Homo sapiens: one gene and its partner. The protein of the gene in region 1 interacts with the protein of each later gene in a pairwise test. Each region holds a gene or a part of one and is shown on either strand. Other genes may lie near its edges.

What was found.
Region 2: the proteins of NCR3LG1 (region 1) and STX8 interact in binary tests that used the Homo sapiens proteins (3 or more experiments, as listed by UniProt).

The regions. Positions count from the first base shown.
Region 1 is NC_000011.10:17,364,980-17,368,799, forward strand, and holds part of NCR3LG1 (natural cytotoxicity triggering receptor 3 ligand 1 precursor), read left to right. Parts: intron 1-2,029; coding exon 2,030-2,368; intron 2,369-3,820. UniProt on the Homo sapiens protein: Triggers NCR3-dependent natural killer cell activation.
Region 2 is NC_000017.11:9,548,104-9,551,923, reverse strand, and holds part of STX8 (syntaxin-8), read left to right. Parts: intron 1-3,820. UniProt on the Homo sapiens protein: Vesicle trafficking protein that functions in the early secretory pathway, possibly by mediating retrograde transport from cis-Golgi membranes to the ER.

The DNA of each region.
Region 1 (3,820 bases):
TTGTGCATGTTATCTGCTCTTTCTGTTAGTGCTCTTAACATTTTAATTATAGTTTTTTAAAATTCCCTATATGATAATTCTAAAATCTGTGTCATACCTGAGTCTGGGTCTGATGTTTGCTTTGTTTTTATGTATTTTTTAGCCTTGTAATTTTTTAGTTGAAAGAGAGATATTATGTATCAGGTAATAGGCTTTTATTATGCGGCCTTATGTTAATTTGGCTAGGAGCTGGGTTGTGTTTAATGCTTATTGTAGCTATAGGTGCCAGAGACTTCAGTTTCTCTAGTGTTTTTTTCTCTCCTTTCCTATTGTCTTTGGGTTTCCTTATGAACTCCTTAAATAGGTTCTGTGCCTTGTAGCTCTCTCACTTATAATCTTCTGTTATTATACTGGAGCCCTGTTGATGTGGTAGTAAAGTGTTGGAGGAGAATCTGTTTATACTTTTATGATTAAATCTTATTCTTTTAGTGGCCTGAGCCTCTGGACTGTGGCCTTCAGAAGTGTTTCTTAGCCTTTTCTCTTTCTCTCTTCTTAAGTAATACAGAAAGGCTATAGACAGCTGGAGTTGGCTAATTTTCTTCTCTCAGGTCAGATAAGGCTCTGACATCTTCCCTTGAGATGGAGGGAATAATCTAGGTATATTTTAAAATGATTACTTCTTTCCATCCCCCAGAAAGAGGAGGAGATTTTTCTTGGCTCTTTACTGTGAGAATCTGGTGGGGTTCCTGGAAGTAAAACTCATGACAGTGTGATAGCATCCCCAAGACTGGGTCCCGAGGATGAAAACCCATGAAAGTGTGGTAAGCATCCCTAAGACCAGGACCTGAGGAGGTTTTTATTCTCAAGCTAGTCCACACTCATCCTTTAGCAGTTTGTCGGAGTTACTGCTTAAGTACTTCTACTGGTTTATGACTCCAGCAGCTTCTGCATGAGGTGATTTGATCTTAGCTGTAATTTTCTTAATCTCCTTCTTTCTCCAGTTTTCTGAGTGGCAGTTTGCCCTGTCACTTCAATTCTCTGAGGAATCTAAGAAAAGCTGTTGATTTTCAATTTGTTCAGCTTTTGTTCTTATTATAGGGTGGGAGTGATGACCTCTCATGTGAGAGGGAAACCTGGAAGTCAATAGTGGCTTTGGAAATGGCAGTTTATTTTTCTTTCACACTAATGTAGCCAGCCCAGGGCAGATATGGCAGCTAGCTCTGTGATCATCTGGGACCCATGATCCTTTTATCTTGTCACTCTGCCATCTTCAGTATGTATCGTCCACCTTGTGTTTGGAAATGGCTTATCCATCTCCAGTCATCACATAGTATTCCAAACATTCTGCAGGAAATAAGGAGAGAGAGAGAAAGAGACAGTCTTTTAAGACATCCTTTTAGTTTAAGGATACTTCCTAGAAGTTGCTCTTGCCACTTTTGCATAAATCCAGGCCTACTAGACCCCTGAGTTTGCATGACCAAACATACCTGCAGTGGAGGTTGGGTGATACAGGTTTAATCTGGATATGTCATGGCCAGCTAAAAATGCACAGAATGGAAATTGAAGAGCAATTAGCAGTCTCTACCACAACAGTGTTCCAAGGCTTTCCTCAGATTATGAAAGGTGTCTGTTTCACAACACAGCTTAAGAAAACTCTGCTTTACAAAATTGCTGTGAGAGTTGTGGTCACAGCATGTCAGTACCCGGTTGGCACTGGCACCAACATACCCAGAATATTTAGCCCAAGCTGACTTGCATTCAGTCACTCACATGTCCTGAAGGCTTACCATGGCTCAGATGTCAGGCTGATAATAAGCTAATCCCTCCCTACCCTTAAGGAGTGCCCAGTCTGGTATTGTAAATCTCCAGCTCATTGCTGGACATGGTTGCAGCATTTTTAAAGAGTAGGCATCCTGTGTTTTTTGTCTTATCTGGCTACAGGAGCAGTGATGCATAGCTGTGAGGGTATGGTAGAAGCCAGTTAGCATAAGGTGTGGTGGGGATAAAAGGGTGCTGGGCCCAACTCTGTATGATTTTTTTTCCCTGACAGCTTCCCCAGCCAGCAGATTGTTGCTGGATCAAGTGGGCATGAAAGAGAATGAAGACAAATATATGTGTGAGTCAAGTGGGTTCTACCCAGAGGCTATTAATATAACATGGGAGAAGCAGACCCAGAAGTTTCCCCATCCCATAGAGATTTCTGAGGATGTCATCACTGGTCCCACCATCAAGAATATGGATGGCACATTTAATGTCACTAGCTGCTTGAAGCTGAACTCCTCTCAGGAAGACCCTGGGACTGTCTACCAGTGTGTGGTACGGCATGCGTCCTTGCATACCCCCTTGAGGAGCAACTTTACCCTGACTGCTGCTCGGCACAGTCTTTCTGGTAAGGGTCTTTCTGGACATTTCTTCTCTTCCTTGCCTTGAGGGACTATAACATAAGACTTATTCCCACACAGCCTGGGTCTTAGCTGGGGACTGAAGGGGAAACAGAGAAAGCTTGGACTGGAAGGACCAAGCTGGAGTCTGGCCTAGCTCAGCCCCAGAGTCAGCAGTCCAGCCTAGGTCCCTACACCTGGGCAGATGATGGTCTTAGTAGGTGGAGAGTGGTGACTGTAGTCATCAGGTGGAGCAGGGCTATTTGTCAGCTCATGGCAGCTTCAGGGTTTTGGATGGTCCATATGGCTTGAAATAGGAAACCTGCCAGTTGCTAGGGGAATGGGGACAGTATCCTACCCGTGTTCCCTGAGGATAAGGGGCTATCAGGGGCCAGGGACCAGTCCTGCTAGCAGCCCTTCTAATAAGGCTCTAGGTCCACTGTAAACTGTTGGCTGGTAGAGGCTGACTCAGTAGTCTTGTCTTTTTTTTTTTTTTGAGATGGAGTTTCGCTCTTGTTGCCCAGGCTGGAGTGTAATGGCGTGATCTCAGCTCACCACAACCTCTACCTCCCGTGTTCAAGCGATTCTCCTGCCTCAGCCTCCTGAGTAGCTGGGACTACAGGCATGCACCACCACGCACGGCTGATTTTGTATTTTTAGTAAAGATGGGGTTTCTCTATGTTGGTCAGACTGGTCTCGAACTCCTGACCTCAGGTGATCCGCCCGCCTCAGCCTCCCAAAGTGCTGGGATTACAGGTATGAGCCACAGCACCCGGCCAGTAGTCTTGTCTTATGGGCTGTGTCCCAAGATGGGGAGGGCTACAGTAGAGTGGTTCTGCAAATGCTCAATGCCTTCCCCAGGCACACTGGATCCTTAAAACACAGTTCACGGCAGACCCACTCCTGCTGGTGGGCTGGGGCTTTTTGAGCTCATATGCCTTGGTCATAGCTCTGGTCTTGGGTGTGGGTGGCTCTGCTGGTAAAATGCATCTCCCTGGGGCTGAGAAGAGTAAGGAAGGCAGGGAGTGACTGGGGCACTGAGGAATGTGGTCAGGCAATGCCATATGGGGCCCAGGATGATCCTGGGGAGAGAGGAATTATTCTTGGAAGTTAGGACTAGGTGTGTGTGTGGGTGGCATGTGCAGGGATGCAGGGAGGGTATGTGTGTCCATGGGGAGTATGAAATGGAAATATACCTTGCATGTATGGTACGAGGGGTTGTCTATGTGGTATGCACATAGGGATAGAAGATGGTGTCGTATTACACAAGGTTTGAAGATGAGGGTAGCACAATTATGTGGTACGTGGTGTTCATCTTCCATATTTTTGGCAAGTGCTACATACACTGTTTGATGTATGGAGGTGTATGTGATAGGAATGGAGATGCTGAGACATGTGGCAGAGGGCTGGTGGTTAAATCTCTGACAAGGAGGATGACACAACCACACAGTTCCCAGCAG
Region 2 (3,820 bases), on another chromosome or scaffold:
TTGGTAATTCTATATAAGTTACACCCCCCCCTAGTTTTTTTGGACATATTACTGGTCCACGAAACCTGAATGTCTAGGTGCCATTGGTATCGTGGGAACAACATCGGCTCTGAAAGCAGACAGAACTGAGATTGAAGACCAGCTCTGCCACTTACCAAGGCCAAACAGCAGTTCAGCTTTTCTGGACCTTAGTTTCATTATCTGTAATGTAGGAATAATCATACTTTGCCAGGTTATTGTACAAGTTGAAGAAAATCTTTTTTCTTCACAGGACTAGCCCCCCATAATGGTGGGTGTTGAATAAAAGGTGGTTACCAACACCCCTGGGGAAGTTACTTAACCTCTTTGTGCCTCATTTGTGGAATGGGATGCTAGAAGTCCACCTGGCGTAAAGGATTGTTGTGTAAGGATGAGATTATATGCATACAGGGTGCTTCACATATACTAAGTCCTCCTTGAGGATTAGCTGCTATTGATTATTTTATCATTATTGTAAAGATTTCAGCTACCATTGAGAATTTACAGGTCATCCTTTCTTTGTGGAGTTTTTAATCATGCATGATGGTTATGTCAAAACTCACAAACAATGATGGTATTAAAATAGTACTTGCAAAATGTGATCAGTGCTTTGAGGAAGGTAAGGACTTGGCCTGGTACATCATAAATATTTATTAGAGTTTGTTGACTTAAAAAAAGAAAGCCAGAAAAGTCTTTTGACCTCTAGAACCTTAAACTGTTCCCTTGCAGTTCTTCTTTTTTGGCATGGAGAATTAATTATCTGCAAACTTCTTCCTTCGCCAGAGCAGCTCTTTCACAAAATAAGGCTTACCTAAATTCTATTTTTTTTTGAGACGGAGTTTCACTCTTGTTGCCCAGTCTGGAGCACAATGGTGCGATCTCAGCTCACTGCAACCACCGCCTCACAGGTTCAAGCGATTCTCCTACCCCAGCCTCCCAAGTACCTGGGATTACAGGTGTGCACCACTACACCTGGCTAATTTTTGTGTTTTTGGTAGAGATGGGGTTTTGCCATGTTGGCCAGGCTGGTCTCAAACTCCTGACCTCAGGTGATTCACCCACCTCAACATCCCAAAGTGCTGGGATTACAGGTGTGAGCGACTGTGCCCAGCCTAAATTCTTAAGCCTTCTACCAAATATAAGAGAAAATCCAGGAGCTGGAGTGGGATTGGGTGACCTGTGGATCCAGTTGCATATTTACCCCGCTCCATCTGTGGTTCAAATGCTCACCAGGCTACAGCAGAGAAGCTGGACTTATGCATGCTGGTAGTAGGTATCAGTAATATGAAATCAGGATCCAGTTTTATTTTTATTTTTATTTATTTATTTTTTGAGATGGAGTCTCGCTGTGTCACCCAGGCTCGAGTGCAGTGGCACGATCTTGGCTCACTGCAAGCTCCACCTCCCGGGTTCACGCCATTCTCCTGCCTTAGCCTCCCGAGTAGCTGGGACTACAGGGGATCCAGTTTTATTTACAACCTTACATATCCATGAATTGGCTATAATTACATGTACAATCAGCATAGCCAAGGACAAAGTACTATGATAGTTAGCTCTTCTCTTCCTTTTCTTTATCTGTCTGTTCTCTTATCTTCTTCCTTGGCTATTCACCAGGTTGGTGGAAGAGGAGGTTCCCCAGCACTGGCCACTGACTGTGTGCTGTACTACTTTTTTTTTTTTTTGAGATGGAGTCTCACTTTGTTGCCCAGGCTGGAGTGCAGTGGCACGATCTTGGCTCACTGCAACCTCTGCCTCCCGGGTTCCAGCGATTCTCCTGCCTCAGCCTCCTGAGTAGCTGGGACTACAGGCGTGTGCCACCACACCCAGCTAATTTTTGTATTTTTTTAGTACAGATGGGGTTTCACCGTGTTGTCCAGGCTGGTCTCGAACTCCTGACCTCATGATCCGCCTGCCTCAGCCTTCCAAAGTGCTGGGATTACAGGCTTGAGCCACCGCGCTTGGCCTGTGTGTCCTACTTTCTACTTGTCCTTAGCATCACTCAGGCACACTGTTTCCCCACTACCCTACTTTACCCAACTGCTACGCACCTGTCCACATACATGCTGTATAGATTGTTTCCTGGATGATCCTTTGACCTCTTACTAATAACAACCCTTACATAGCAAGGGTGCTATGCAGATGGTTCATTAATCAATTTATTCTCATTCCATCTCCCTCCTCCCCATCTCCTTATGCTCTGTTCTCTCCGTAGATTAAAATATAAAACAAAGAGGCAGCATGTTCCTAATTGGATTGTTTTCCAGATTTACAGAGTCTCTGGGAATATTCTGAATTCGTACTCCCAGTATTGTTTTTATCAGGATTCTAAGAAGTGGCAAAGTTAAGTCAGCATCTCAAGGTGGAGAAGTCTGCAGAATGTTTGGTGGAAAAGCCATGAGCTAGGGTTGAAAGAGCTGTCACCTAGCATGGCTGTTAACCCAGGCAAGTGACTTAGCCATGCTCACCCTTAATTTCTGGTCAGCAAAACAAGAGAACTGGGATCTTTAAGGCCTCTTCTAGCATCAACTGTGTGGGTTTCTGTTCTTTGGTTACTCATCTACAAAACATAGTCATCAAGTTTTACTGTTTCTGAAACTGATGTTCTTTGTTAGCTCCTTCTTGACGTAAGTTTAAATCTGTAACTAGTATCTGCTGATTTTAAAATGTACCTTTATTGTTTTTATTACAAAAAATATTATACTTTCTACTGATACATTTCTCATTAGTTATTACCAATGACTCCTCTTTCTCTTCCTTATTCTATCCTGTCTCATCTCATTCTTTATAGTTAAGTGTTAATGGTTGGTAGCTAGTATCTCAGACTTTTCTAGGCTTGAAATATATGCATATGTAAACATAAAATTCCTTTGACTATAAAGGGATTATATTATACATATGGTTCTGAAGCTTGTGTTTTTATTAATTAGCAGATGATAGAGACAAACATTAGGAAACAATATTCAGTGAAACATCAGTCTCTCTTATACCCTTAATCCTCAGTTGTCCTTCCTTAGAGGCAATGTTTATATATCAGAAATTTTCTGTGTGTATATACACACATATATAGTTAGGATTTTTTTTTAACAAAGTGGGAGCACACTACTCACTGTTTAGCTCCTTGCTGCTGCTGTTTTTTTCCCCTCCTTTGGTTTAATGTTATATTTTGTAGATTATTCCATGTCAAATAATTCATGTAAACACTTAGTAAGTGCTCAAAAATGTTAATTATCATTATCAGCCCCCTAAACAGCTTTCCTATTCTTTTTTTAAGGCTGCAAAACATTCCATTGTTTACATACACTAGTTACTTATTGATATTTCCAATGTGGCTATTATAAATAATGGTTCAGTGGACATCCTTGCTTCTAAGTCCTTGTAGGACTGTATCTGAGGAAGAAATGTCTGTTGAAAGACTGTACCTTTTATATTTTGTTAGGTATTTAGAAGGCAGTCTAGCAGTTGGTTGAACCTGTTTGCATTCCTATCAAGAATGTATGAGGTGGCCGGGTATGGTGGCTCATGCCTGTAATCCCAGCACTTTGGGAGGCCGAGGTGGGTGGATCACTTGAGGTCAGGAGTTCGAGACCAGCCTGGACAACATGGTGAAACCCCATCTCTACTGAAAACACAAAAATTAGCTGGGCATGGTGGCATGTGCATGTAATCCCAGCTACTTGGGAGGCTGAGGCAGGAGAATTGCTTAAACTCTGGAGCTGGAGGTTGCAGTGAGCCAAGATCATGCCACTGCACTCCAGGCTGGGCGACAGAGGGAGACACTGTCTCAAAAAATAATAATAATAAT